7 linked regions of the Homo sapiens genome follow. The protein of the gene in region 1 interacts with the protein of each later gene in a pairwise test. Each region holds a gene or a part of one and is shown in the gene's direction. Other genes may lie near its edges.

Region 1 (3,815 bases):
ACAGTGTTGTTAATTTGTAAATTAAGAAGCTGGCTCCCCGGCTGTCTAGTAACTTAGGGATTAGCAAATGCAAAAGTATAGACTTTTATGGTAGTTTCTTATCCTTCCCTTTCCCAGATTTCTGTTCTTTGGTTGGTTACAAAGCCTCTTATCTCTTTTTGATTCAGTAAAGTGATGGGTAATAATGCGACACTGGAACAAATCCATCTCTTGTTGGAAATGGAAGCTGGGTTGGGACTTGTGCTGTGTCACCCTCAAGTATGAAGTGTAAACTCTTTCTTGGGCCACCAAAGTAACTAAACAAGAAATGCAACATTCTCCCATGAATACATTAGAGTTAATACTGTGGCCACATTTGGAAAATTAGCATAGCTCGTAAAAGCCAAATGCAGAAAATTAATTGTTAAGTATTCTATCACCACAGCTCTATCCTCCTCCGCCCACCCACCCTTGAGGAAGACAAGCCCAAAGTTAGTTGATGCTATGGAATCACAAGGATGTCCCAGTCCGTGATTTGCTGTAATTGAATCCATTTTAAATGTGGAGTCTGGATGCTGTTGGCATACCTTTATTTTGCTTGTTTTTCCCCCTGACAAACAAATCATTTACACATTTGCCCGAAGCCATAGAATGGGTAGAGGGGATGACTAAGATGTCATCACGTGCTCTCAATTTGGAGGCAGCATGATTTCCCCTGACATTTACATTTATGGGCTAGCTAATTTTTCCCTTCGTCTTAGTAAAGTTTATATTACAGAAGCGCCCAGCCAAGAACCTTATCCCACATCCAGATCTGTAAAATGATGTTCAGATTTTATAATCTGTGGACTGGATGCAATGACAGCTTGTGACTGTTTATTGCGTGGGACTGCCCCCAAATTCAAAGATGCTATTAATTTACCACAGACCTTATCTGCACGATTATCCTTCATAAATATGCTGACGCAATCCACTTTTTCTGGTTCAGAGAGGAGACCAAGGGAAACAGCTAACCCGGTTGCTAAAACCTTTTTCATTTTCCTTCCCATATGTGATTGTCTCCATGTCCAAGGGAGGCTGGGCTAATCATGAACCTGGTCTCCCATTTTTAAAGAGAAGATAAATTATGCTCAGAAGAGATAGCGGTTCATTTCTCACCGACCACTTGATTCCCTTGTCTTACATTAAATGTTCTATTTCTGTTATCTCTAATGCTGTTTGTTTTCCATATAGAAGGTTCAGTTACACCATTACATTTCCAAAACTTTTCTTAAAAAACTCATTTTTAAAAAACGAAGCAACTTACCCATTTATATATGGTCCCCCTCCCCCCAAGAAACACACATAGTTTTGACAAAGGTACCTTTTTCAAAGATGAAACAAAGTATGTCTTTCCATACATAGATATGTGTGTGTGTGTGTGTGTGTGTGTGTGTATATGTATGTATATATAGATTTTTTTAAAGCTAAGTGCTTTCAGTTGAGAGGGGAGGCCCGAAAGGAAAAAACCTAGAGAGATGACGGGGGAGATGGGTTTTTTTTAGTATTATTTTAATGTAACTTTCTTTTGCTAATCCGCTCCTCTCTCTGTTCTCTAGGACATATGAGCCCTACCACCTGCACCCTGAGGAAACACAAGACCAATCGGAAGCCGCGCACGCCCTTTACCACATCCCAGCTCCTCGCCCTGGAGCGCAAGTTCCGTCAGAAACAGTACCTCTCCATTGCAGAGCGTGCAGAGTTCTCCAGCTCTCTGAACCTCACAGAGACCCAGGTCAAAATCTGGTTCCAGAACCGAAGGGCCAAGGCGAAAAGACTGCAGGAGGCAGAACTGGAAAAGCTGAAAATGGCTGCAAAACCTATGCTGCCCTCCAGCTTCAGTCTCCCTTTCCCCATCAGCTCGCCCCTGCAGGCAGCGTCCATATATGGAGCATCCTACCCGTTCCATAGACCTGTGCTTCCCATCCCGCCTGTGGGACTCTATGCCACGCCAGTGGGATATGGCATGTACCACCTGTCCTAAGGAAGACCAGATCAATAGACTCCATGATGGATGCTTGTTTCAAAGGGTTTCCTCTCCCTCTCCACGAAGGCAGTACCAGCCAGTACTCCTGCTCTGCTAACCCTGCGTGCACCACCCTAAGCGGCTAGGCTGACAGGGCCACACGACATAGCTGAAATTTGTTCTGTAGGCGGAGGCACCAAGCCCTGTTTTCTTGGTGTAATCTTCCAGATGCCCCCTTTTCCTTTCACAAAGATTGGCTCTGATGGTTTTTATGTATAAATATATATATATAATAAAATATAATACATTTTTATACAGCAGACGTAAAAATTCAAATTATTTTAAAAGGCAAAATTTATATACATATGTGCTTTTTTTCTATATCTCACCTTCCCAAAAGACACTGTGTAAGTCCATTTGTTGTATTTTCTTAAAGAGGGAGACAAATTATTTGCAAAATGTGCTAAAGTCAATGATTTTTACGGGATTATTGACTTCTGCTTATGGAAAACAAAGAAACAGACACAATGCACACAGAAAATATTAGATATGGAGAGATTATTCAAAGTGAAGGGGACACATCATATTTCTGCATTTTACTTGCATTAAAAGAAACCTCTTTATATACTACAGTTGTTCCTATCTCTCCCCCGCCCCCCACCGCCCCACCACACACATATTTTTAAAGTTTTTCCTTTTTTAAGAATATTTTTGTAAGACCAATACCTGGGATGAGAAGAATCCTGAGACTGCCTGGAGGTGAGGTAGAAAATTAGAAATACTTCCTAATTCTTCTCAAGGCTGTTGGTAACTTTATTTCAGATAATTGGAGAGTAAAATGTTAAAACCTGTTGAGAGGAATTGATGGTTTCTGAGAAATACTAGGTACATTCATCCTCACAGATTGCAAAGGTGATTTGGGTGGGGGTTTAGTAATTTTCTGCTTAAAAAATGAGTATCTTGTAACCATTACCTATATGCTAAATATTCTTGAACAATTAGTAGATCCAGAAAGAAAAAAAAATATGCTTTCTCTGTGTGTGTACCTGTTGTATGTCCTAAACTTATTAGAAAATTTTATATACTTTTTTACATGTTGGGGGGCAGAAGGTAAAGCCATGTTTTGACTTGGTGAAAATGGGATTGTCAAACAGCCCATTAAGTTCCCTGGTATTTCACCTTCCTGTCCATCTGTCCCCTCCCTCCGGTATACCTTTATCCCTTTGAAAGGGTGCTTGTACAATTTGATATATTTTATTGAAGAGTTATCTCTTATTCTGAATTAAATTAAGCATTTGTTTTATTGCAGTAAAGTTTGTCCAAACTCACAATTATTTTAAGAGGTGTTCTCTGTTCTTAGCTGGGCTTAGCTCGAAAGTGCTACCCACATGAGGGGGAAGCTGGTCTTTTTTAATATTTTAATGTAAGTCAACCAAGAGTTGTGGCCAGATTCAGCCATGTTGGGGTGATTGGTGGTGGTGGGGAGTGAACTGAAACTACTGAAATACTTTGAAATGTTTCCTCTGGCAGCTTGTTACTTATGGAAAAGAGGTGGAATTGCTGCGAGGAGTTTTTCAGAAAAAGTACAGTGAAAGATAAGCTTTAAATAAGTGGTGAGGCGGAGATCGGCCAGCATCTAAATCATTTGTACATGATCAAGGGAAAATCTTGAACTTGAAATCTCCCAGCTACCAACACATCAAACTTAAAACTGAGGAAAAGGGTCCTTATAGCTGTTTGCAAGTGGACATGGTAACGAGGCGCATTCGCTGGGCTGGGGGATGGAAGCCGGCTCCCCTTTCAGGAGTGTGTGAAATCGCATTCCGTTTAC
Region 2 (4,995 bases), on another chromosome or scaffold:
TTTTATTTTAGAATTTGACCTATATCTGATATATGTATTTTATTTTAAACATGTAGTACTTTACAGAATTCATTATTGCTGATTAATGAAACTGCCTTATGACATTTTCAGATTTCTTTCCAATAACCCTTGCTTGTATATTAAATGGCACCCTACAAAATATCTGATTTCTTATTCTACTTAAAACCCCTCCTCCACCCCCTACCTAGCTAGCTAACTCTTTGTTCATCATGTCCATTTTATCTGTTACTCTTTTCATGAATTTCTTTGCATAATTTGTTTTTTATTTTTTTCAATGGGATCATAGACCCTACCTCTATTCTTCACATTCTTTTGAATGAGGATTGAGTTAATTAAAGCACTTAATACCTGACACATTATAAGCATCATATAATTTTTAGTTATCATTGCCATTTAATTATGTTTAAAAATTCTACACTCAAAAGTTTAAAATTAAAAACTTATATTCAGTATTATATATATCATGTAATGTAATTTTCATATCTTTAAGAAACTGTACACGTATATTTTTCTTTAAAATTAAACTCCAGTGTAACATTCTTTATATACAAGGATTAGGATTATAGTCTTAAATGTTACTAAAAATTATTTATTTCTTTGTCATATATTATACTGCCAGGAAAACATTGAGTAGGTATCTTGTTTTACCTTTGGCCCCTCCAAAATGTATTTAGTCTTTTCTATGTTTTACTGGAAAATGCTATAAATTATCTATCTTAAAAATATCACATGGATCACTGGCTTAGCCAGACAATTTTCTTCCTATATCTACCTATTTGCCTATCTTTGTAATCTTGATATTCTTATTCAAACAGTTATGTGATAGTTTCTATAAATTGGACATACTGTAACAAAACATTATTTTGAGAAGAACTCTGTCTTTTAAATGTTCTTTTTAAAAATTAGTTGTTGGCACTCAAAACAATTATACTTATCAACCATAATACTTTTTTAACTGTTTCTTTTTGAGACAAAGGCTTGCTCTGTTTCTCAGGCTGGAGTGCAGTGGTGTGATCATGGCTTACTTCAGCCTTGACCTTCTGGGCTCAAGCAATTCTCCTACCTCAGCCTCCTGAGTAGCTGGAATGACAGATATGCATCCCCACACCGAGCTAATTTCTTTTTATATTTTTTATAGAGTCGAAGTCTCTCTATCTTGCCCAGGCTAGTCTTGAACTCCTGGGCTCAAGTAATCCTCCAGCCTCAGCCTTCCAAATTGCTGGGATTACAGGCATGAGCCACCATGACCAGCCTCTTTTTAATTGTTTAAGAATTTTTTTTAAAACAAAAACATGTTCACTTGGGGGTAAAAATTAAATAGAGAATATTTTCCCAAATTCTGTATTTCAGAAATTACAACTTAATTTTGAAGTTACATGTAGGCAGTTACAATACTTACAAAACAAAAATGTTTGCCTATCTGTGTGAATCTGCATGGTTTAACTGGTTATTTTCACTATTTTTTTCTCCTTCCTCCCTCTTCACTATTTTTTAACTTAAGTTCAAGTATCTTGAGGAACCTGTTTTTAATCTTTAATATATCTAGTATAACATTGTCTTTTTTGAGATTTGGGACTCAGAATTGCCCTATTTAAATTTATTTTTTGAAAATTCCCCCATCTATAAGAGCATTAATGATGCAATAATAATATTCCTTGTCTCCTGGCAACAGTAACCCTGGAATTGCAGCAAGTGAGGTGTAGAGAATGTGTGGAGATCAGGTGATGCAGAACTCTGGTAAAGGATGTTAGTCTTCAGAGTAAGACTGTTAAATTCAGCAAAGTCTACTATCAGAAGACACGGTGAGCAATCTTGTAGAAAGGGAGTTTTTCTTTTAGTTTTAACTCTGAGCACACATCAAAATTGACGTTTAATTTATATTTTGTCCAGAAACTTATTTGATTCAACTAAAATATCTTTGAAAATTATCTCTTTCATTAATAACTGTGCCCAAAATCATGGCTGTGGTAAAACTGAACTCAGTTAATATGTTTAAAAGGGCATCAATAATTGTTTTAATATTTTATTTTCTGAACTAGCTCAAGAGTAAGAGATAAAAGACATAACTGATACGTTGATATAGTATTAAGAATTATGTTTTTTCAGAACTCTAGAGTAAGAGAGTTACAAAACTCCCTACGTCCTACATTAATTGACTGACACATTGACATCTCAATAAATAGCCTGATGATGGATTATTTTCAAACTTTAATTTGTTTCTGAAGTGAAGTATTAAAAGACTATACCTAATTCCTTTTTTGATATCAAATGTTTTTAATTACTACATACCAGTGAAAGAAAGTTATTGTCAGGTAATCAAGCATGTTTACATATCTGTATTTTTTTTATATAGTCCTGAACTTCCTTTTCAGATTATTTTTTTTCCTTTAAAGCACTCATGTCTTATCTCATTTGTATAGTTTTTGTTTGTTTGTTTGTTTTTTAGATGGGGTCTCACTCTGTCACTAGGCTAGAGTGCAGTGGCATGATCTCGGCTCACTGCAATCTCTGCCTCCCAGGTTCAAGCGATTCTCCTGCCTCAGCCTCCAGAGTAGCTGGGACTACAGGCATGCACCACCACACCCAGCTAATTTTTTTTTGTATTTTAGTAAAGACGGGGTTTCACCATGTTGGCCAGGATGGTCTTGATCTCCTCACCTCGTGATCTACCCGCCTCGGCCTCCCAAAGTGTTGGGATTACAGGCGTGAGCCACCGTGCCTGGCCTCACTTGTATAGCTTTTAAGTACCTTAAGAGTGAAGTTACCTTATTTTCCTCTAGTAGAACAATTTAATGCAAGTAAAGTTTAGAAAAATAATCAAATTAATCATAAACTGAATGGATTTTATTAAGCCAATTGTATTTTAAAATAGCAAAGACTGCATTTTGAAATTGTTTCTTTAAAGAATGCCATTATCATTCACCCTTTTTCTCCTATGAAAATTAACTGCAGATGTGAGAGAAAATATGAGGACCTGAATATCTGTAGCCAAACTAAGAGTAGAAGGTGTTGAAATGAGGGAGGGGACTTCCCCATGATAAGGAGACTTAAGGAAAAAAGTGACTAGAAAAAAATGCCACGTCTTTCAGCAAAACTGCCTTCTGAGCGTGAACTTAAATTTGTATTTGTGTTGGAAATGCTTGAAGAAATGTGAGGAGAAGGAGGAGTTATTTGTGTGTCGGGGGGTGGGAAAAAAAGTGGAGGTTACTGAGTGGGAGGTTGGGAATTCATGGGGCAAGTCATTATTTATAAGAAAAAAAGGGAAAATAGTTTTTGGTATAGGAAAGGAGAAAGGTAGTAGTATCCCATGGGAGAAAGTTCAGCAATGAAGGAGAATGGAAAGTAATAAGAGATCACCCCACCTAGGGTAGGTAGAATCCATATGATTCCTTCTTTCTTTATTTCTCTCCCTTTAAAAAAATGCCTTTCATGGCTGGGTGCAGTGGCTCATGCCTGTAATCCCAGCACTTTGGGGGGCTGAGGTGGGTGGATCACGAGGTCAGGAGTTCAAGACCATCCTGACCAACATGGTGAAACCCCGTCTCTACTAAAAATACAAAAATTAGCTGGGCATGGCAGCGCATGCCTGTAATCCCAGCTACTCGGGAGGCTGAGGCAGGAGAATCGCTTGAACCTGGTAGGCAGACATTGCAGTGAGCTGAGATCGCGCCACTACACTCCAGCCTGGCAACAGAGCTAGACTATGTCTCAAAAAAAAAATTGCATTTCATTTTATCTTTCTTTAATGGCCCCTTCTCTTGCTTGCCTACTAGCAGGCTCCCTCCTGAGCCTCACGCTAACACCACACCCCTGTAGTTTTTCTCCTTGATGGGATGGGTTTGAGGAGAGCAGCAGTTGGTGAGGTAAGTTTTAATGTCTGAGAGGGTGCGGTGAGTAGACGGGGAGAGCTATGAACAGAAGTTTTTTGGGTTTTTTTTGTTAGTAAAAGGCTTTTTCTAGAAACATTGGGATGAGTTTCTACTTTTCTCCTTCCTCAGATAGTGTTTAAGAGGGATGTGAAAGATGTATATGGTGTTGGCTATAATTCTGGAGTCCCCTTCAGAGAATACTTAATTCCTTGAGTGTTGACAGGGTTATCCACAGAGGGGTTAGTGATTTGGAATGATGTGGATAAAGCTTATGAGGTTACTGGGTTTACTGTGAGGGTCATGGCGAGTTGTACAGCATCCAGTGCAGAGAGAATGGCATTTTGGTCTCACTAGGTGGCTTTACCTCCCAGCTTGCTTGAAAGCCTGTTGTACTTCAGAGTATTCTCAGCGATTCCCTTCAAAAGGGGCTGGAGATTTCTCTGGCCAGCTTGCTTCTCTGAAATTGGTGGCAGTTTGGAGAGGCAGCAACTCTGCATCATTTACATCAGAAGCAAGAGAAGCTCACTTGGTGACTGTTGAATTCACATAGCTATAAATCTTTACCAGCTACAGCCACTGGAAGGGGCAGAGGAAGAGTAGGAAGGGGAAGTAGTACTACTGTTGTAGTTTTCCCAATGAAGCAAAATATGTAGCAGTATTTTGTTGTTTGAGATAGTATCCAGAGTTTTTTTTTTATATTTAAGAGAATTAAGGAGCGTGGACACAAGGGTGAATTTCAAGTGAAAGTTTAATAAGCAAAAGAAGAACGCTTTCTGCAGCAGACAGTGGGGCCCAAAGGGGTTCCCCACCATGAGGCCGGGGTTCAGGGTTTTTATGGACCGGGATGGGAAGGAATGTGCATAGTTTGCAGGCTGTTTTGAGGAAAGTGTGATTTAGCTTGGTCTGGGACCAATCAGGAGCTGAAGTGATGATTTATTGGGGCTACCTAGCTTGGCCCAGGACCTAGTAGAAGCTGAAGTGAAAGCTTGGCCAAAGACCTTGGCCCTGGGACCAATTAGGAGCTGAAGCAATGATTTATTTAGGCCGAGCTTACGGTTTAAAGCATGTTTAGAAAAGAAAAAAAAAAAAGTGCCCACCAGAACCT
Region 3 (4,558 bases), on another chromosome or scaffold:
AGGCCAGTCAGACCCACCCCCCATTTCCAGTTGGGCCACAGGTCAGTATCTCTCAACTGCTTTCCACTGGGCTGCATTTAGGATGGTTTAACCATATAAATCACCAAATAAATAATAATGAGTTAAATCCAATTGACTCCAACAGAGCAAAGATGGTAATAAATTTTCGTATGAAAAGCTGTATGACTACATTATTTATTAAATACCACCAAGAAAATATGTGTTTGCAAAACTCTTCTCTCTTCTTAAAGGAAAGGTTGGCTTTAATCATGTGGAAACACTTTTTTTTTTTTATCTTAAAACCCACTACAATTGTGCTGTTGGTTACCGTGCAGTTTCCTGGAAAGTAAAACTTTAATGACTGGAGTGTGAAGAAAATTAAGTTATTTCAACCTTACTATAGCCATTTTTGAAATAGAAGATGTGATTTAATATAAAAAAGTTAATGCAATTTTAATGCAAGTTCAGCTTATTGGGTTTGACAATACTGTACATCACACATAGCTCTTGCATTAATAAAGAAATACAATCATTATTTTTTAAAGTCCAATATTTGTTTTTTGCAGCCTGGTGTGGGCTATATGGAGATGTAGAACACAATTATAAAAGGCTGGGCTTTTTTTTTTTTTTTTCCTTTTTACCTCTATCATTTAGTGTGAAGCTTTCAGAGTTCATCCTGCTTTTTTGGAAAGAGAAGCTGAGACTTGGGCCTTTCTCTCCCTTTTATTGTCATTATTGCTCCTGGAAGTTAATGACTTTAAGCACATTGAGGGCTCACCCAAGTTTAGAGTGAGGGTTGGCCTTGACATTCTTATTCCACTCGCCACCAAGACTCCCTATGGCCTCAGATCCCGTAGTCCATCTCGGAGGACAGATCACTCTGTGCCTGTGGACAGAAAGCCTGGGGAAATGTCTGCTGGCTTATGGAAGCCTAGAGAGTTTTCCTGGGACTCTCAGGAACAGGATTTTTGGTGTCATACGCTTTATAATTTTATGCTTGTAACATTGTGTGTGTGTTCATGTAATTATGTGTGTCTGTGTGTGTGTATGTCTGCACACCTGCCTGTGAACATACTGGGGGTAACACACTCTAATGCCTTCAGGTTGGGTAGGCAGCCCCACAGGCCCAGGTCAGTGAGGAGTGGTGGCCCTCCGACAAACTGGAGAGTGCATGCCCTGCCTTGAGCCCACAAATCCTATTTTTAAAATGCTGCAGGCCAAAACCCCCAAATCTATGACCCATATATGGTCTGAGAGCTACTTATTTGCCTTCCCTCTTACCATAATATCACTATTGGCAGTGATGTAACACCTGGAATCTGAGGGCCAGCATATAATTTTGTATACATTCCCGAAGTATATTTATTTTGCTCATTAGAATAACTGTATTTTTTTAAAAAGGGAAGCACAGTTACTTGGTGTGAATTTAGCAAAGTGCACAAATACATTAGGAGCAAGGCCTGTGGGGTCTAAAGCAGCAGTTCTAAACTCAGCTGTGCAGAATCCTAGGGCTCTGCAGAGTCTCCCCCAAAGGGTCCTGAAAGGAACACTGCAGGGAATGGCCAAGTATGGGCTTAGCCCTCTCCACACCTCCCCTCATTCTTCAGATAAAGCAGCCCCACTTCTCTAAATCTGTTCTTTGTATTGGAGGGGATACAAGAAAGGGGTAAAACATGGGCTGTGGAGCAGCCTTCCTGGGCTTGAACTTGAACCCCCTCTCAACTAGACATGGGACTTGGGCAAGTTACTAACCTCTCTGTATCTCATTGGTAGATTAACTACAGCATTAGAATAGTGCCTGGCTATTATACATTGAGCTTAGTAGTATGCCTGTATTTAATTTCCTACCCCTCACATAAGAGTTTTGCATTGGTTCTTGTAGAAGAACAACAGATACAGGATTATTATGTTCCACATGGCTCCCACAAGGCTGCAATGAAAGTCCTGAATCAAGGACTCTAAGATCAAATGACTCTTGTGGTCATCTGGCTTGACCAGGGCAGGAATCCTTCCCATGTCATCCTGGTGAAGAGCCCACGTGCTGCACTCAAAACATGCCGAGCAGTTGCCTTTCCCTACCAGAGAAGGGCTGTTCCATCCATAGTGGATGTAAACATGTGTTTGTATAATATCATTTTAATTGGGCAAATGATGTTAGAGTAATAACAAAAGAATTATTTTCAAAGATTTTAAGTTTTATCCACATCAAATATTTTTATGTCTTACATTCTGTTTTAGATCTTGTCATTGTACATACATAATTCTACCATTTTAACAATAATCATTCAAGTTTACTTAATAGTTATCCAGCTTACTTTCTATTTTATTCTCATATTATAAACATTTTCTATTTTTCTAAAGAGGTGTCATAATGATCCATTTTAATGACTATGCAATATTTCATCTAGTTTAGTACTGTAATAAGCTATTTTCAATATTTATGTATTTTGAAACAATACATGTTTTTATGCAGTTATCTTATTTCCTTTTGAATAATATCTTCAAGCTATATCCTAGGAGTATATTCTGAGTTAAAGGGGGATAAATATTTTTGCAGCTCTTGATAATCTATTTCTAAATTGCTTTCCAAAAGGATTATGCTAGTGTACATGTCCCCCAGCCATAGATCTGCATAATGGTGTCAATACAGACTTTCCAGCATTGAGTAAATTTTCTACATTATTTTTGTTAATTTAAAAGTCAAAAGTAGTATTTCGTTGCTCTTTTTGAATCAAAAAATCCCACTGATCCCAATGAGTTCTTTCTGGAACAACAGAGAATAAATTAGCTGAGAGCTTCAAATATATGAAGATAGGATCAAATGGAAACTCAATGGAAGAGTAGCATATAAACGTAAGTTATTACTTGTAAAGATATTTGAGTTCCTCACAAGAAGTCCAAACCAAATGAAATTTTCCAAAGAAATCAATGAAATGCAACTTTGAAAATTTTTTTCTACCAATCATTTTTTTTTAATGAGATAGGGCATGTTTTTTGGTACTTCTTCGGGAACTTTCTGACCCTACTTAAGTGGAAAGAAGATGTTTTTAAAACCCATGCCTTGGTTCCACAGGAAAGTGAGCTAGCTGTATCTGTTTCCTTGCAGCCACTTCTGACGGCACAGCAGTTAGCTTCTGCTGTGGCCGGCGTGATGCCGGGAGGCCCCCCAGCCCTCAACCAGCCAATCCTCATTCCCTTCAACATGGCGGGACAGCTAGGAGGCCAGCAAGGACTGGTTCTCACACTGCCAACAGCGAATCTCACCAACATCCAAGGGCTGGTGGCAGCAGCTGCAGCCGGAGGCATTATGACTCTGCCACTGCAAAATCTACAAGGTAATCCATAATGTCCATGCGCCACGTAAGGCTCTACCCGTTGGCCAGTATTCTCTGAAGTGGGCAAAAAAAAATGTGCCTAGAATGGTGAATGTGGTTCAGAGTTGCTTCTGCCCTAAATGATATGGAAGGCTTCCACAGGAAGCAAAATTTTCAGTTGTCTGTGAATCCTGAGCCTGCACAAGCCATTGGTTTTATCAATCCTCATTTCCTAACATTGGTATCAAAACTTTTCAGGACTCCTGGAAGCATTTATGAGTCATCATTGCATGACATATCAGAAACTTAAAAGTAAAATTCCTGTGTTGTTATTTGAAGACCTGAGTTATCATCTCACCAATTCTTCAATTTAGCCATGGGTAAAGAAAAGTTAGAGGTTGCTTTTTTGTGTTTGAAGTGATTGGAACATCTCAAATACAAGATATTATTTGGAATAATTTATTAATGATTATTTTGCTCTACAAAGTATGTTTTAGTTATAGTTATTAAACAAAAATTGTGTTATTTGAGCTCATATTTTGCAATGAGAAAAATAGACTTGTATGTTGAGCCTTTATACTACAGGGACATATAACAAGTCAGACTCTAATTTTACTTAGGAAGGGTAGTTGTCTTGATATTATGAAGGTTTTGACTTTTCTTTAAAAGATTTGGTAGCATTGACTGATAGATTGATTTACAAAAGATTCTGTCAGAGGAGTAATTATTTTGGTGGAAAATGACCTGAATATAAATAGGATGCCTGCTAAAGAGAAAATGAATTTATTTTGGACTAGTCAAAGATGTTTGTTTTCTTCATATATATATAAAATTAACAATTAAAATTTTTGCAGAATGAGGGCCTGTCTGGGTAAGTTATCAGAATAGCAATTTAAAATACTTTTTTAGCTGGTCAAATGTTAGGGCTTCATATAATTTATCGGAGAATCAGTCCACAAGACTAAGAAACAGACCAAGTAAGAACTGTTCACTCTTGACCCAAACTTCTTTCCGTTCTCTATGTTCTGTTACCCCACCCATTGTTGCCACTTCTTGACTTCCATTTTGATGTTTAAAACGAAGTCTCTCTTGTACCATTAAATTGTGCCAAGAAACCTGCCATTCATAAATCATGCATGCCCAGGATACGCTAATGCACAAACTTTGCTTGTTTCAAATTTGAGAGTGCCTGGGAAGCCAGATCTCAAGATTAAGCAAATAAAGCAGGAATACACAAGGTGAAA
Region 4 (3,524 bases), on another chromosome or scaffold:
GGACAAAGCCACTTTTTGGCAAATAGATGCCACCATCTGCAGGTGGCCGCCTCCATGCTGCTCTCGTATATAATTTGGGCATGGTGGGGCATGGGTGTTTAGTAGGGGTTGGGGGAAGCAAGTAGAGAGTTCAGACTCTTAAATAAGTTGTTTGCCAGAGCAGGCTTAGATCTGGGCACTGTGAAGTAAGCGACCCACCCTGGGGGGGCGCCACTGTAATTGTCCTCGGACCACTGGGCGTGCCACCTCTGTGGGACATCCCTTAGGTGACCTCAGCTTGGGTGTGAGCATTAGGTAACTCTCTCCCTTGGCATCTGTGCCCTCTATTCACAGATAACTCTCTCCCCTGTTTCTAGGAGAAAAAAAAAGTGCGTTCGCTACATACAAGGTGAAGGCAGCTGCCTCAGCCCACCCTCTTCAGATGGAAGCTTACTAGATTCGCCTCCCCCCTCCCCGAACCTGCTAGGCTCCCCTCCCCGAGACGCCAAGTCACAGACTGAGCAGACCCAGCCTCTGTCGCTGTCCCTGAAGCCCGACCCCCTGGCCCACCTGTCCATGATGCCTCCGCCACCCGCCCTCCTGCTCGCTGAGGCCACCCACAAGGCCTCCGCCCTCTGTCCCAACGGGGCCCTGGACCTGCCCCCAGCCGCTTTGCAGCCTGCCGCCCCCTCCTCATCAATTGCACAGCCGTCGACTTCTTCCTTACATTCCCACAGCTCCCTGGCCGGGACCCAGCCCCAGCCGCTGTCGCTCGTCACCAAGTCTTTAGAATAGCTTTAGCGTCGTGAACCCCGCTGCTTTGTTTATGGTTTTGTTTCACTTTTCTTAATTTGCCCCCCACCCCCACCTTGAAAGGTTTTGTTTTGTACTCTCTTAATTTTGTGCCATGTGGCTACATTAGTTGATGTTTATCGAGTTCATTGGTCAATATTTGACCCATTCTTATTTCAATTTCTCCTTTTAAATATGTAGATGAGAGAAGAACCTCATGATTCTACCAAAATTTTTATCAACAGCTGTTTAAAGTCTTTGTAGCGTTTAAAAAATATATATATATACATAACTGTTATGTAGTTCGGATAGCTTAGTTTTAAAAGACTGATTAAAAAACAAAAAGAAAAAAAAAGCAATTTTGAAGCAGCCCTCCAGAAGGAGTTGGTTCTGTATTATTTGTATTAAATACGAGCTTGCGAACCAATCATTTTACATCTGGTTTTTAAACCGTAAGGGCACCATGAATGCAGTGCCGTTACTTTTTTTTTTTTTTTCTGTGTGAAACAACTCTTATTGTGATGTTACTTGTTATTGTTTAAATGTACAGAAACAAAGGGTAAAAATGTGTTAATATACCTTGTTCCATGGTGTTGTTCTTTTGGGGGGAGGGGACGCTACTCAACACTTAATAGAATCACAACGCTGTTGGGCCAGTAGTATTTATTGCTTTAGAGATTGCTTGTCGTACCTGTATGTCGTCCCTTTTTAAATATGTTTTCCTTTTTCTTGAAACTGTATAAAGTTTTTTTCCCCCTTAGCATAAGCATCTTATATATAACAACTCATTTGTACAAGGTTTTTAAGTTTATATATAAAATGTGTATATATATTTTTGTTTCCCCTTTTTGACTTTTTTTTTTCTGTATGAAACCCAGATGTCACCAAATGGACATTAATAGTTGCATTAAGGATCAGTAGCATTAACAAAAGTTGCTTTAAAAGCCATTATGTAAAACAAGACTTGAAAATGAGTGAGGGAATTTTAGCGACACTGTCTGAGCAGCAGTGGGAACCATCTTCGTTTCCCCTTTGAACTCCCAGTGGGATGCCCTACCCTGCGCCCTTAGGACCCGGACTGACCGTGTACAAAACTTTACGTGCCAAAATTCTCAGTGAATTTAGCTTTCTCCCTCTTTTTGATGCTGTAATTTTTGTTCATCATGTTTTGCTGTGATGTTACATAGGTAGATTTGTATGTAGTTTTAATGTCACCTATAACAAAATGTGTTTGGTAGCAGATTGTCCAGAAAGCATTTTAAATGAAGAGGTATAAACCCTTAAGGGCCAAAATTCTGTATATTAGATTACTCTTAAACGAAAAACCAGCTGCCGCTTTTATGTACACATATTACATACGAGTAGGCAGCAGACTTTAAAAATAAAAAAAACCTAGGCATGTTGATGTTGCAAAATGCTGTATAAAGCTGAAACCTGTTCATTCAGTGCCATTGTAGTTGACATGAAGCGATTGTAAAACTGTCTCCGATTTTTCTCTGGTTTATTAAAATGCTAACTATAACATTTTTTGTGAATACTTTGAATGTTTCCTAACAGTTGTGATGTTACTGTTCCGTTTTATGCTCTTATTCCAAGTTCATTTTTAATGGTTTGGAAGCCATTTTTGTAATGAATAAATGTTCATGCTGTACAGTATCTGTAGCATGCCGTTCTGGATTAATAAAAGCAACTTAGTATGTGCAGATAAAGGCTGGTCACTTGTTTCTGTGATTTGGATTTTTATCTCTAGGGAAACTGGACCTACCGTAATCAAGAAAAACATATTCCCACGTTGGAACTTGACCATACAGTTAGTGTGTAGGTGATGACTTAGATACCAGAACGTGGTCTTGGACTCTTTTGAGGGGTTGATCCCCTCCCCTCCATCCTCGTGGCCCATTTGGTGTATCTGGTTTGCATAATGTGTCATTTGCAATGGAGATGATCAGTATCAAAGGGGATCCCTGGTGTGTGTCTTCTGTAGTATTTCACCGTGCCATTCCCAGTAGTTTGTTGCTGAAAGCAAAGCACAGTTACAGAGCAAATGTCACTTTTTTGGGGGCTATAAACCAGTTTCTCTGAAATATCCTACTCATCCTCTCACAGTAGCAAGCAGAAAGAATTTAATTCTGGTGAATGAGACTTAGTCCACCAAGAGTGCACTTAAGAAACCACATCCTTAGCAGTTAAGGATCATGGGTGTGAAAGCATCCTAACCTCCAAGAGTTGCATCCTGGGAGAGATGCAAGGGTATCAAACTGCCCTTTCTCTAGCAGTGAGCGATTATTGAGTAAGCAGCTTTTTAGAAAATTGGATTAAGGTGATGCACTGAAAGGTGTGTGTGGAAGGGCCTTGCTGTATGTGGGATCCAAGTGTTCTGGCTGTACCCTGGTAAGAGCCCAAGTTCATCACCATCACTGAGCAGGGGCCATGATACAGATCTTCCCTAAGGTTTCCCCTGGATTTCATTTCTCTTGCTGACTAGATGGATGGATGGACACATTGTTCCATTTATCTAGGACATTTATACCTTCAAAGGATGACGATTTCAATGGGCATGGAACTGTTCGTGTTGCCGTTGTGGTTTCTTAAGGTGACCACAGTATCGCATCAAGGACTTAAGAGCCCCTCGGAAACTGCTTTGCTCAAGCAAGTTTTTCTTCTGTAAAATCTCGGCATTTTGTTTTTGCTTTGCTTTGTATTCCCAGGGAGGAGTGTTTCTGGTTGTCCTTCCTCATTTTATTTTGCACACT
Region 5 (4,558 bases), on another chromosome or scaffold:
TCTGTTAATTGTTTTGTTTGTTTGGTTTTAACAACTGCTGTGTGCCAGGCTCTGGGATAAGTACCTTAAGTAGGTGATCTCATTTATCCCTCCCAGCAGACTCTGAAGCAGAAACCCTTTATCAGCATAGTACAGATTAGAAAACTTAGGCTTAGACTGGTAGTAACAGTTAGATATGGGATCCAGGGGCTGGAATTTGCCTCCCAACTTGCCCACCTGTGTACAGTGGGGAGAACAGGTGTGACTTGATGTCCTCTCTCTCTGCAGGTCTTCTCAGTACAGCATGGTGGCTGGGGCAGGCCGAGAGAATGGCATGGAGACGCCGATGCACGAGAACCCGGAGTGGGAGAAGGCCCGTCAGGCCCTGGCCAGCATCAGCAAGTCAGGAGCTGCCGGCGGCTCTGCCAAGTCCAGCAGCAATGGGCCTGTGGCCAGTGCACAGGTGAGAAGGCCTCATGGGGCTGGGGTACCCTGAGCCAGAGGTTGTGGGAGGGACACAGTCTGGCGTCCTGTTGTATCATTCAGACGGGGTGCTCTGAGGGGAAACATGAAAAGACGTTCCAGGGTATCTAAATCTGAACGGGAAAAAGTTCTGTTTCCTTGAGGAAATTAGGGCGTGATGTGGTTCTGAAGAGGGAGGCCATGCCCATGCCCCTGGTCTCTAACGTGCGTGAGTCTCATGGTAGAGACAGTGGCTCACTTTGCAGATACATGGACCCAGTTTCATCCCTTGGCAATTGGCCACCAGTAAACAGGCTTGCCCTTTGGGGGCCGTGTGCCTGTGGATTTGGGCTGCTGACGGCACATGTGCCTCTGCTTCCACAGTACGTGTCCCAGGCAGAAGCCTCAGCTTTGCAGCAGCAGCAGTACTACCAGTGGTACCAGCAGTACAACTATGCCTACCCCTACAGCTACTACTATCCCATGGTGAGTGCCCAGCCAGTGGGGCGGGGCAGGGCGAGGTGGAGTCTGCTGGGTCGGGGCGAGGTGAAGTGGAGTCTGCCGGGATGGGGCTGGGTGGTGGATGGACTGGAGATCGCAGTGATAACTGCTCAGAAACCCTCTAACTTGCCCAGGAGGTAAATTCCTAGGTCCCCGCCATGAGCCACAAGGTCCTACATACCCGGTTCTGGTCCCTTCTCTCCTCATGCTCATTCTGCCATGGCCATCGAAGCAGAGACCTCCTTGATGCCCGCACCCGCCAGGCCCGCTCTCGCTTTGCCCTGGCTGCAGTGCTCCCTGTGTTGCCGCCTCTTGGAGGTCTCTGCTCAGATGCCGCCTTCAGAGAGCCTCTACCTGACACACTGATTGAAAGTAGCATTCCTGCCTCGCAGCCTGTCCCTCTCCCTTTCTTTGCCATCTTATTGTTTCATGATCCTTATTGCTGGATGTATTACATGTTGATGTCTCCAGCCGGACATGTAATTCCAGCACAAGCTTCATTACAGCATGGGTTTTCCTTTTGTTCTGTCGTAGTGCTTAGAAGAGTTGGCACTCAGTATCGTTGATTATATTCTTCCGAGAACTAGCTAAGTGAGATGTGGGATTGATAGAGGTTTTTCTTTTCCTAATATATGAGAGGATGTGGTGCATTAATATAGTGAAGAGAGAAAGGGGTGAGGGATTGGTAGAGGGTCATGGCTGGTGTAGTTCCTGAGCAGGCTGGGGAAGCGGAAAGGGTAGGCCTCCCACTAAACCCTCCCTCCCTGCGCCTTTGCAGAGCATGTACCAGAGCTATGGCTCCCCTTCCCAGTATGGGATGGCCGGCTCCTATGGCTCAGCCACACCCCAGCAGCCATCCGCACCCCAACACCAAGGGACTCTGAACCAGGTAACATCCTAGCCCAGCTCCCATACCCTGCTCAAGCAGAGGAAGTGTAGATTTTTGAATGAGCTGTCAATGAGGAATGGCTTGTACTCCTTAAGCTGCTTTTTTCCTTCCAAGCAACTCCTGATCTGAAAATGAGGAGGACAGAGCATAGTGTTTGAACCTGGGGTGGGTTTAAGGCTGAGCCAAGGCCAGGGCTGAGATGTTGAAAGACATCTCATCTTTTTCCCTAGCATGGTCACCCACAGGCGTGCACACACCGGCTGGGTTTTGCATTGAATGTGCAGCTTGGAGGAATGGCCGGGCTAGTGCACAGGAGGCAGGTAGACCTGGGTTTGAATCCCAGCTGTCCCACCCCTGGTGTAATTACGCATCTCGGTCAGCTCTCGAAAGCGGGAAGGATGGTAGCCTCATCCTTGGGCTCCATGAGTGTGTGTGCTCATGGGTGTCTTGTGCTCAGATGGTAGCGCTGGAGTGGGTGTGTTGTCGGTGGCTGTTACTCCAGCATTGAAACGCTGCCAGCTGCCGCTTCATAGCTTAGGGCCCTGGGAAGTCGCTTAGTCTCTGAGCTGGAGCCTTGTCAGCTGTGAAAAGGGCTGTTAACAAATGTTAACCTCACAGAGTTACTGAGGACTCGAATGAACTCACATTTGGGAAGGTCACGGGAGGGTTGAGTGCTGAGTGCTGTGACCACTGCGTCCTCACAGCGAGGGCTGAGTGCCACTCGCCAGCCCCAGAATCTGCCTCCCGTGCTCAGCGCCTGCTTCCTTCTGCAGCCCCCAGTCCCCGGCATGGATGAGAGCATGTCCTACCAGGCTCCCCCTCAGCAGCTGCCGTCGGCTCAGCCCCCTCAGCCCTCAAATCCCCCACATGGGGCTCACACGCTGAACAGTGGCCCTCAGCCTGGGACAGCTCCAGCCACACAGCACAGCCAGGCGGGGCCCGCCACGGGCCAGGCCTATGGGCCACACACCTACACCGAACCTGCCAAGCCCAAGAAGGGCCAACAGCTGTGGAACCGCATGAAACGTAAGTTGGCAGAGCTACGTGGAGGTCCGAGCGGTTGGGCCCTCATAAGAGCTCCTGGGTGTGAGGCCCGTGGTGTGTGCTGCTCCTTGTTTCTGGGTGTTGTGATCGCCAGGCTGGGGGTGGGGCTGCTCTGGACCAGGCACATGTGTGCTGGAGCCCTCCTCTAGAACCTGAGCGCTCCTCCCTGCATTTCCACTTCCTCCCGTCCCCTGGGGACCCCTGGATGTGCCGGGGAAGGGCCTAACCATAGCTTTCGCTGCCCTCACAGCCGCCCCTGGGACTGGAGGTCTCAAGTTCAACATCCAGAAGCGACCCTTTGCTGTTACCACCCAGAGCTTTGGCTCCAACGCAGAGGGCCAGCACAGTGGTTTTGGCCCCCAGCCCAACCCTGAGAAAGTTCAGAACCACAGGTGACGTCTGCCCCCTTGCCCCGTCGCAGCCCCACACTCTGCACTCAGCGTCTATGGTCCAGTCCCACTGGCCAGCTGCCCACCCTGAGCCTCAGTGTGCGCCTCTGAAAAGGGCAGAAGGACCCTCTCTTGGGGGTTGCTGTGAGCACTGAAGGAGACAGAAGGAAAACTTGGGGACTGCGTCCCGCTGTGTCAGCTCAGAGTGGCGGTGGGGATGGTCTTTTGAGTTTGGGATCGTCTCCAGCTGAGCCCCTCATCTGTCCTCCCGCAGCGGGTCCTCTGCCCGGGGGAACCTGTCTGGGAAGCCGGATGACTGGCCCCAGGACATGAAAGAGTATGTGGAGCGCTGCTTCACCGCCTGTGAGTCGGAGGAGGACAAGGACCGCACGGAAAAGCTGCTCAAGGAGGTGCTGCAGGCGCGGCTGCAGGACGGCTCGGCCTATACCATTGACTGGAGCCGGGAGCCCTTGCCGGGGTTAGTCTGGGTGGGGGACATAGGTGGGAGGGTGGTGCTGTGAGAGGCATGGGCTGGGTATGGAGGTAGGAGAGTTGCGGGTCCCAGGTACCAGGAGCTCCAAAGAGAAATGAACTGGAAAGTTGGATCCTGGGGGGATGAAGTCCTGGTTGGAGGGAGGCCGGTGGGGTGGGGTGGGGACCATGGGTGCTGGAGAGGCGTGCATTGCTCAGTGGTTAAGCGCACCCTCTGGAGACGGAAAACCTGGGTTCGCGTCTCATTTCTGCACTGTAGTAGCTGAGCCGCCTGGGGTAAGTGCCTTTCCTTTCGGAGGCGGGTCGGTACCTTGAGGGAGGTGGTGGCGGCTGTCCTGCCAGTGTCTGGCGGGGTTGGTGACGCCCTGCCCTGCTGTATTCTCAGGCTGACCCGGGAGCCTGTGGCTGAGAGCCCTAAGAAGAAGCGGTGGGAGGCCGCTAGCAGCCTTCACCCTCCTAGAGGGGCAGGCTCGGCGACAAGGGGCGGGGGTGCCCCGTCCCAGCGAGGGACGCCCGGGGCTGGGGGTGCCGGTCGAGCCCGGGGCAACAGCTTCACCAAGTTTGGCAACCGCAACGTCTTCATGAAGGACAACAGCTCTTCTTCCAGCACAGACTCCCGCTCCCGCTCCTCCTCCAGGTCCCCGACGCGCCACTTCCGCAGAAGGTACTGAGGCTCCCGGCTGGGGCTGTGTGTGAGGGAGGGGGAGGCGTTTCAGGCCTGACCCTCCTGCTTCTTCCTGCAGTGACTCCCACTCAGACTCCGACAGCTCCTACTCAGGGAATGAGTGTCACCCTGTGGGCC
Region 6 (4,558 bases), on another chromosome or scaffold:
TCACTCTTACTCCCCTCCTCCTCTTGCCTGAATACGTTCTGAAAACAGTACTACAATGCTCCCTGCTTCAAGATTACAGTGTACTTTACTAGGTATGATTTAATTAGGGCCCTTATTATGTTTTCAGCAGCTTAAGGTGGGCCTTTCAACTTATCTACCTAATTGGTTGCACAAGAAGTTTCACAGCCCATGACAAAACATTGTCAGTGATCAAAGTCAAAATTCTGCATAAAGGAAAAATATTAATAAGAAGATTATTCTTCAAGTGTGCACTGCTAATTATGTCCAGAATGTAACCGTAGAAACACTTTTGACTGATGTGAGCTTTGTCTAATAAACATGAATCTTCAGTGAGCTATGAAAAGTGAGACACCTCTAGCTTTACACTGGTGAAGGCTAATTTTGCTTATTAAATAATTTTTAAACATTTCCTATTTTGTGTCGCTTTCCTCTCCATTTGACTCTCCTTGCTCTTGCTCCTCAGGTGACCACCCCTGAGATGGTGATGCCAAGCAGCATGTTCCTCCCAGCAGCTGTTCCAGATCGAGATGGGAATTCCAATTTGGAAGAGGCAGGAAAGCAGCCTGGTCAGTATCATTATTCTTGACCCCAAGAAATTGAAACAAGATGGAATGCCAAAATGTTCATGGAGAAAGGTTTTCAGGAATTCTTTACAATACTCTTAAGGTGAATGTAACTGATCAGGAGATGAGGGGCACTGTCATCAGCTACTTTATACTCTGCTTCTTGGCATGTATTTGTATATTACTCACATGGTTTAAAGTGAGAGAAAATTAGTATGAGAACCAGTGGAATTCTGGCACAGACACACACATCTTCTTAAACTATACAATTAGGGAGTGAATAACCAGAGACTCAGTCAGTAGGCCCTACCATTCTAAGCCATTAAACACTGTATTTCTGAGGACTTAATTAGTAGGGACTTGTGGGTTGATTTTTAGGTACACTGGATTAGTTGTCTTTCGTTCTGAGTTTTTTGGGATTGGCTTAGGATGAAGCACAGAGATGCTGATGGAAAGAACATTGTTGTAGACAGTAGTTGGTGCCACATAGTGTTTCCTGGCTAGATGAATGGTTAGACCTCTGTGAGGCTGTCCTACATCGTTCACCTCTAAGGTGGGAAGAGTTCTAAGTTGGGAAGAGTTTGGCCACACTACTGTCCTGCCTTCTCTCTTTCTTGTGAGTTTTCCATATTAGACAATGGACAAATGACCTGTTAAAGGGTCTCGGTATTTATGAGTGTGATGATCTCATTGTAGGGAAAAAAATGTATTTTAAATAATTGAACACTTGAATGTTAATTGCTTATTGAATAGAGATGGCAATCAGAAGTCACATTATAACAAGAAATTAAATGCCTAAAAATATGTATCCCCAAATTTCTTATATTACGATGTTCAGCAGTTCTTGTAAATTCCTCACAACTTAGGACAGCATTAATTCACATATTCTACACTTCAGATCTACTGTGCTAAATGCTTATTACATAAAAGATGAACATAAAAGGGAAATCCAGTCTAAGATCAGTAACCTTCAAACCAGCTCTTGAGAAATTGAGGATTCTGAGTCAAGCAATTAAATGCTATTTAAAAGACTGTTAGATCTGTGATATGACATGGGTCTATTATGCATTGAAACTTTTTGTATTTCCTTTTATCCATCTCTGTTCATGTGCACCCTGTTTATAATATGTGCTCTATTGGAGGAACAAAAGAAAGCAGGAGGCGCTCCGCAGAGATTCTGTCATTCAGGTTGGGCACTTCCCTCATCATCAGATTCTGTGTTCATGAGGCCTGACTAGGTAGACCGCTCTGGGTGCCATCCTTGAAACAAAGCCTTCTTTATCTTTGGGTTTGATTTTTTTTTTTTTTTTAACAGAAACCTCAGAGGATCTGGGAAAGAACATCTTGCCATCCGCAAGCACAGAGCAAAGCGGAGATTTGAAACCATCCCCTGCTGACCCAGGCTCTGTGAGAGAAGACTCAGGCTTCATCTGCTGGAAGAAGGGGTGCAACCAGGTTTTCAAAACTTCTGCTGCCCTTCAGACGCATTTTAATGAAGTGCATGCCAAGAGGCCTCAGCTGCCGGTGTCAGATCGCCATGTGTACAAGTACCGCTGTAATCAGTGTAGCCTGGCCTTCAAGACCATTGAAAAGTTGCAGCTCCATTCTCAGTACCATGTGATCAGAGCTGCCACCATGTGCTGTCTTTGTCAGCGCAGTTTCCGAACTTTCCAGGCTCTGAAGAAGCACCTTGAGACAAGCCACCTGGAGCTGAGTGAGGCTGACATCCAACAGCTTTATGGTGGCCTGCTGGCCAATGGGGACCTCCTGGCAATGGGAGACCCCACTCTGGCAGAGGACCATACCATAATTGTTGAGGAAGACAAGGAGGAAGAGAGTGACTTGGAAGATAAACAGAGCCCAACGGGCAGTGACTCTGGGTCAGTACAAGAAGACTCGGGCTCAGAGCCAAAGAGAGCTCTGCCTTTCAGAAAAGGTCCCAATTTTACTATGGAAAAGTTCCTAGACCCTTCTCGCCCTTACAAGTGTACCGTCTGCAAGGAATCTTTCACTCAAAAGAATATCCTGCTAGTACACTACAATTCTGTCTCCCACCTGCATAAGTTAAAGAGAGCCCTTCAAGAATCAGCAACCGGTCAGCCAGAACCCACCAGCAGCCCAGACAACAAACCTTTTAAGTGTAACACTTGTAATGTGGCCTACAGCCAGAGTTCCACTCTGGAGATCCATATGAGGTCTGTGTTACATCAAACCAAGGCCCGGGCAGCCAAGCTGGAGGCTGCAAGTGGCAGCAGCAATGGGACTGGGAACAGCAGCAGTATTTCCTTGAGCTCCTCCACGCCAAGTCCTGTGAGCACCAGTGGCAGTAACACCTTTACCACCTCCAATCCAAGCAGTGCTGGCATTGCTCCAAGCTCTAACTTACTAAGCCAAGTGCCCACTGAGAGTGTAGGGATGCCACCCCTGGGGAATCCTATTGGTGCCAACATTGCTTCCCCTTCAGAGCCCAAAGAGGCCAATCGGAAGAAACTGGCAGATATGATTGCATCCAGGCAGCAGCAACAACAGCAGCAGCAACAGCAACAACAACAACAACAACAACAACAACAAGCACAAACGCTGGCCCAGGCCCAGGCTCAAGTTCAAGCTCACCTGCAGCAGGAGCTGCAGCAACAGGCTGCCCTGATCCAGTCTCAGCTGTTTAACCCCACCCTCCTTCCTCACTTCCCCATGACAACTGAGACCCTGCTGCAACTACAGCAGCAGCAGCACCTCCTCTTCCCTTTCTACATCCCCAGTGCTGAGTTCCAGCTTAACCCCGAGGTGAGCTTGCCAGTGACCAGTGGGGCACTGACACTGACTGGGACAGGCCCAGGCCTGCTGGAAGATCTGAAGGCTCAGGTTCAGGTCCCACAGCAGAGCCATCAGCAGATCTTGCCGCAGCAGCAGCAGAACCAACTCTCTATAGCCCAGAGTCACTCTGCCCTCCTTCAGCCAAGCCAGCACCCCGAAAAGAAGAACAAATTGGTCATCAAAGAAAAGGAAAAAGAAAGCCAGAGAGAGAGGGACAGCGCCGAGGGGGGAGAGGGCAACACCGGTCCGAAGGAAACACTGCCAGATGCCTTGAAGGCCAAAGAGAAGAAAGAGTTGGCACCAGGGGGTGGTTCTGAGCCTTCCATGCTCCCTCCACGCATTGCTTCAGATGCCAGAGGGAACGCCACCAAGGCCCTGCTGGAGAACTTTGGCTTTGAGTTGGTCATCCAGTATAATGAGAACAAGCAGAAGGTGCAGAAAAAGAATGGGAAGACTGACCAGGGAGAGAACCTGGAAAAGCTCGAGTGTGACTCCTGCGGCAAGTTGTTTTCCAACATCTTGATTTTAAAGAGTCATCAAGAGCACGTTCATCAGAATTACTTTCCTTTCAAACAGCTCGAGAGGTTTGCCAAACAGTACAGAGACCACTACGATAAACTGTACCCACTGAGGCCCCAGACCCCAGAGCCACCACCACCTCCCCCTCCACCCCCTCCACCCCCACTTCCGGCAGCGCCGCCTCAGCCGGCGTCCACACCAGCCATCCCCGCATCAGCCCCACCCATCACCTCACCTACAATTGCACCGGCCCAGCCATCAGTGCCGCTCACCCAGCTCTCCATGCCGATGGAGCTGCCCATCTTCTCGCCGCTGATGATGCAGACGATGCCGCTGCAGACCTTGCCGGCTCAGCTACCCCCGCAGCTGGGACCTGTGGAGCCTCTGCCTGCGGACCTGGCCCAACTCTACCAGCATCAGCTCAATCCAACCCTGCTCCAGCAGCAGAACAAGAGGCCTCGCACCAGGATCACAGATGATCAGCTCCGAGTCTTGCGGCAATATTTTGACATTAACAACTCCCCCAGTGAAGAGCAAATAAAAGAGATGGCAGACAAGTCCGGGTTGCCCCAGAAAGTGATCAAGCACTGGTTCAGGAACACTCTCTTCAAAGAGAGGCAGCGTAACAAGGACTCCCCTTA
Region 7 (4,558 bases), on another chromosome or scaffold:
ACAATTCTTAAATAGTTGACTTAAGTATCTACCTATAGATCTGTCTTTTTCAATTTTTGCCACAAAAATGACTCCTGGCTGTGAAGAATGGCAAAGAGGAAAGGCAGCCTGACTCCTGCAGCCTCACACGTGAGTCAGATGCAAGTTGAAGAGACAGATGACTCTGGCTTTGTCATACAGACATATCAGGATGTGTATGATACTATTTGTACAGGAAGATCATTTGCAGTGGAGGGAGTATTATGGCTAGAAAAGCTTGTTCCCACATTTTTGAGTTGAGGAAATCAGTTGAGTTGAACAGTGGAAAAGGGAGAAGGCCCTGGCTGATCACCATGATTTTCTTCCTTTAAAGTTTCTGTAGCAGGATCTTTGTATATATGCCTATGTGCTGGTATGGTGAAGAGGAACAGATTATCAGGAATCCGCCTTTGACAGAGACATTTGAATGCAAACATCATTGCTTGAAAGGTAGAGGAAGCCTTCTCCCCAGTCAGAGGTAAGCACACAAGTGGATGGATGCAGGGAACCTGCTGTTCCCCTGGACTCACATCAAGCTATGTAGGCCCACTCCAACACAGTGCAGTTGGGAATGGCCCCTTCAGGGTTTGGACAAGGAGAAAGCAGTCCCCAACCCCTGCATTGATGTGGAACCTGCCAAAGGATGATTTGCTTCTGGAGTGCCAAGTGCAGGCACACCAGGCAAGAAAATGCAACTGAGGAGCAGTGGCCTTTTGCTAATAAGACCATCGTCTCTGGAGTGAAAGGGCCGGTGGCTTGTTGGTTGTAGTGGCAGTCATATGTGTGCTCAGCATCTCCATTGCGTGGATGGCTGGATCAAGCTGCCTCTTTGGATCTTGGTTAATCAGTGGTGAATGGGTGGGTAAGTTTAGAATTCCGGCTAAATATGTCTGGCTTCAAAGACGTATTCTGCTCAGAAGCTCAGCTTCTGTTTCATCCTAACACTTGGCTGCTGAGTTGCTCTGTGTTTAAATTCTAGGCTTTAAGTGGCAGCTGTGGATCCACTCCTACCACCCCGCCATGTGGTTTTGCTATAGATAGTACAGTCTGCAGCTGGGGTAAAGTCAAGAGGACTCAGCCACGTGTTTCTAAGACTGTTTTTCAGGAAAACTCAGCAAGACAGTTTCGCTGTTGTTGCCCAGACTGGAGTGCAATGGCGCGATCTCAGCTCATCACAACCTCCACCTCCTTGGTTCAAGCGATTCTCCTTCCTCAGCCTCCCTAGTTAGCTGGGATTACAGGCATGCACCACCACGCCCGGCTAATTTTGTATTTTTAGTAGAGACAGGGTTTCTCCATGTTGGTCAGGCTGGTCCGGAACTCCCAACCTCAGGTGATCTGCCTGCCTCGGCCTCCCAAAGTGCATGAGCCACTGCGCCCAGCCAAACTCAGCAAGTTTTTATTGAGCATCTGCTGTGTTCTCTTGGTATAGCTCTCCCAGTAAGGAGTAAACATAATAATTCCTGGTGCTCTCCCGCTCCTTTCTGTCCCCTTTTGATTGCAGTGGACCTGCTCTGGTTCATCACAGGGAGAGAGCTTCATGCTATTTTAGAGACCCCACAAGGGATTAAAAAACTAAGGAAAGGCCGGGCACGGTGGCTCACGCCTGTAATCCCAGCACTTTGGGAGGCCGAGGCGGGTGGATCGCGAAGTCAGGAGATCCGAGACCATCCTGGCTAACATGGTGAAACCCCGTCTCTACTAAAAATACAAAAAAAATTAGCCAGGTATGGTGGCGGGCGCCTGTAGTCCCAGCTACCAGGGAGGCTGAGGCAGGAGAATGGCATGAACCCTGGAGGCGGAGCTTGCAGTGAGCCGAGATGGTGCCACTGCACTCCAGCCTGAGCGAGAGTGAGACTCTGTCTCAAAAAAAAAAAAAAAGGAAAAAATTACCTTCTAAAGTGGTATCATCATATTATCAGAAAGTTCTAATATCTTGTACTGATTGGTGGGAGCCAATGTCTCCTGGTTCTGCTTTGTTTTAGGGGACTCTACAGTACCACCCCAAGGGGCAGGGCTAACAGCCTCTTTCCCATTAGCCTTGTCTCCTCACTCCTGACTACAGCCTCCCTCTTAGGGATGTCTACATGGGACCCTCTTACACCAATCTATACCCATGATCAGCCTCAGGCAGACCACTGCGGTCATAGCACAGGACAACTTGCTCTACCAGGCAGGGCAGGACACCAGCACCTGGTCTAGACAGATCTTTGAAGTAGCTGTATTGGGAAAGGAAGGAAAATTGGCCCAATCCCACATTTCCCTTCAGAACCACTAACTGCTGCTGTCAGAGGAGAACTTGTTAAATAAAGTTCCCACAGGCCAGCCCTGTTTTTCCAGCAGCTTCCATTCTAACATACCATTATGGTCGAAAAATACATGAGTGTAAATGGTAATAATGAAACCTATTGTAAAAGTCCACTGGATATTTCTAGGGCTCAGGGCTAAGACACAGGAACCAATTAACCCATTTATGCTGGAGGTTACAAACTTTTTTGTGAAAAATCAGACTTTAATGATGATCTTGAGCAGTAGGATACAAATAATTCCTAAAAGGTTAGCGTCCCAATAATGGAACATGAGGCATAAGTGGGTTAAAGCATCTGCCCAGTAGCTAAGGGCCAAGTTCTGGTGGCACATGATCCTGGGGTTGGAGTCCAGGCTCTGCCACTCAGTAGCTGTACGTGTGACCAGGTTACTTAACCTCACCAAGCCTCTTTTTTTTTTGAGACGGAGTCTCGCTCTGTTGCCCAGGCTGGAGCGCAGTGGCATGATCTCAGCTTACAGGTGCCTGCTACCACGCCCAGCTAATTTTTTATATTTTTAGTAGAGACGGGGTTTCACTGTGTTAGCCAGGATGGTCTCGATCTCCTGACCTCGTGATCTGCCCACCTCAGCCTCCCTAACCTCACAAAGCCTCTTATTTCTTTATCTGTAAAATGGGTATAATAGTAATCTGTAGCACAAAGGGTGTTGGGCAAATTCTATAGAATAGTGCATGCGGTGTGCTGGGCCCTGGTGTGCCATCAGCACTTCCTAAAGGTGAACCTTTATTACAGTTCCAGCAGCATTCAAAATACCATGCCAATTCAGACTTTTTTAAAACAAATCTCATGCAGACATTACACAGTACTCTTCAGCCTCTGACCCTTTACCCTTTAGCAGTGGATCTCACTGTTATCCTGTGACTGTGTAATTTTGAAAGTGAATGGAAACACCTGATGATGAGTCAACCAGATCTGAAGTGGATTAAAGGGACACTGTCAGGGTGCTGGCACCCTAAGTGGGCCTTATACTAAAAAGCTTCAGTTCCTGCTAAAAGCACCTTCTGATCCTTGACTACAGTGGGGTTTGATGGCATACCTCCTTCCTGTGAAACCCAAGTCAAAATCCTTTTATCGGCCTGCCTGATTCTGTATCCTTGGACGCATGGCTGCTGTGGAAGTTGGCCCAAGATGTGTTCTTCCCAGCCTGAGATATCTCGTGGATCAGACTGACCGAAGCATCTGGGAGGTGGGCTGGAACAGTCCCAAGAAGGCCGGATTGTCCTCCCCCAAAATAAAGACAGAGATCATCCGTGTTTCTTCTCCTGTACGCGAACCTGGTGGATGCTCCAAAATCGAACCAAAACACTACCATGAATAAGAGATGACTGCACTCCTCTGACACAACTTCCTATTTTTGTCTTTGTTCTTCAAAAGGTCTAAACAGTTACTAAATCCTGTTATGCTGAAGGTGGGGAAGTTAGAAAAATAGAACATCTCCTGACAGGTAGAAGACGGGATCCTTGGAGGCGTTCCTTTGGGATTTCATTTTACCTCCATCTCGTTTGTTGTCCAGTTTCCTTTTACGAGGATTAAGCAGGCATCCTGCTGGCTAGAATCCTGTGGCTTCCCTGGAGCCTCAAATTCTTGTCTAACCACATTTCTAGTCATGGTTCCTGCAGGAGACATCCACTCAAACCACCTGTTACTGAGGCACCAAGCAACCCTAGAGGCAGTTGGCCTCTGGCCCTAGCAGGAGCAGGATCTCAGGCCATCCCACCAGGCAGCCAGCCTCAGCCCCTCACCGCAGCCTTGCAGAGTGGGCTCTGCAGAGAAGCCGATTTGTGGACAGTGCCACCCTCCATCCTGAGTCACATGGCTCATGTGGTTGCAGCCATTTTTGAGCCAGGAGGGGGCCCCTTCTAGGTGCAGCTGACCTGGGAATGCTAGCCAGAGCGGCCAGAGGAGAGGAGTTGGGGGAAGGAGAGAGGTATCTCTTGCTGGCCGCGGGATCTCATCTCCTTTTGTCTTGTTTAGGTTTCTCCTCTGCCTCCTACTTAAAGGTCCATGTTAAAACCCACCACGGTGTTCCCCTTCCCCAGGTCTCCAGGCACCAGGAGCCCATCCTGAATGGGGGAGCAGCGTTCCACTGCGCCAGGACCTATGGCAACAAAGGCAAGCGACCCCTTGCTCTGCACTTTGCTTCTCTGCGCAGACTGTGTTGTGGGGGCGCTGGGCTGGGCGTGGGGAGGCGGGAAGGCTGCCGGCTTTCTGGC

Evidence for each region.
Region 2: the proteins of MSX2 (region 1) and TENT5D interact in binary tests that used the Homo sapiens proteins (3 or more experiments, as listed by UniProt).
Region 3: the proteins of MSX2 (region 1) and POU6F2 interact in binary tests that used the Homo sapiens proteins (3 or more experiments, as listed by UniProt).
Region 4: the proteins of MSX2 (region 1) and TCF7L2 interact in binary tests that used the Homo sapiens proteins (3 or more experiments, as listed by UniProt).
Region 5: the proteins of MSX2 (region 1) and LENG8 interact in binary tests that used the Homo sapiens proteins (3 or more experiments, as listed by UniProt).
Region 6: the proteins of MSX2 (region 1) and ZFHX3 interact in binary tests that used the Homo sapiens proteins (3 or more experiments, as listed by UniProt).
Region 7: the proteins of MSX2 (region 1) and PATZ1 interact in binary tests that used the Homo sapiens proteins (3 or more experiments, as listed by UniProt).

What each region holds. Positions count from the first base shown.
Region 1 is NC_000005.10:174,727,582-174,731,396, forward strand, and holds the end of MSX2 (homeobox protein MSX-2), read left to right. Parts: intron 1-1,577; coding exon 1,578-2,002; 3' UTR 2,003-3,315; downstream 3,316-3,815. UniProt on the Homo sapiens protein: Acts as a transcriptional regulator in bone development. Represses the ALPL promoter activity and antagonizes the stimulatory effect of DLX5 on ALPL expression during osteoblast differentiation. Probable morphogenetic role.
Region 2 is NC_000023.11:80,418,741-80,423,735, forward strand, and holds the start of TENT5D (terminal nucleotidyltransferase 5D), read left to right. Parts: upstream 1-1,706; 5' UTR 1,707-1,823; intron 1,824-4,995. UniProt on the Homo sapiens protein: Catalyzes the transfer of one adenosine molecule from an ATP to an mRNA poly(A) tail bearing a 3'-OH terminal group.
Region 3 is NC_000007.14:39,204,286-39,208,843, forward strand, and holds part of POU6F2 (POU domain, class 6, transcription factor 2), read left to right. Parts: coding exon 1-41; intron 42-3,106; coding exon 3,107-3,335; intron 3,336-4,558. UniProt on the Homo sapiens protein: Probable transcription factor likely to be involved in early steps in the differentiation of amacrine and ganglion cells. Recognizes and binds to the DNA sequence 5'-ATGCAAAT-3'. Isoform 1 does not bind DNA.
Region 4 is NC_000010.11:113,165,199-113,168,722, forward strand, and holds the end of TCF7L2 (transcription factor 7-like 2), read left to right. Parts: intron 1-356; coding exon 357-774; 3' UTR 775-2,480; downstream 2,481-3,524. UniProt on the Homo sapiens protein: Participates in the Wnt signaling pathway and modulates MYC expression by binding to its promoter in a sequence-specific manner. Acts as a repressor in the absence of CTNNB1, and as activator in its presence.
Region 5 is NC_000019.10:54,451,826-54,456,383, forward strand, and holds part of LENG8 (leukocyte receptor cluster member 8), read left to right. Parts: intron 1-267; coding exon 268-442; intron 443-825; coding exon 826-927; intron 928-1,720; coding exon 1,721-1,831; intron 1,832-2,604; coding exon 2,605-2,857; intron 2,858-3,125; coding exon 3,126-3,267; intron 3,268-3,538; coding exon 3,539-3,742; intron 3,743-4,141; coding exon 4,142-4,420; intron 4,421-4,499; coding exon 4,500-4,558.
Region 6 is NC_000016.10:72,796,056-72,800,613, reverse strand, and holds part of ZFHX3 (zinc finger homeobox protein 3), read left to right. Parts: intron 1-484; coding exon 485-587; intron 588-1,899; coding exon 1,900-4,558.
Region 7 is NC_000022.11:31,328,686-31,333,243, reverse strand, and holds part of PATZ1 (POZ-, AT hook-, and zinc finger-containing protein 1 isoform long C), read left to right. Parts: intron 1-4,319; coding exon 4,320-4,457; intron 4,458-4,558. UniProt on the Homo sapiens protein: Transcriptional regulator that plays a role in many biological processes such as embryogenesis, senescence, T-cell development or neurogenesis. Interacts with the TP53 protein to control genes that are important in proliferation and in the DNA-damage response.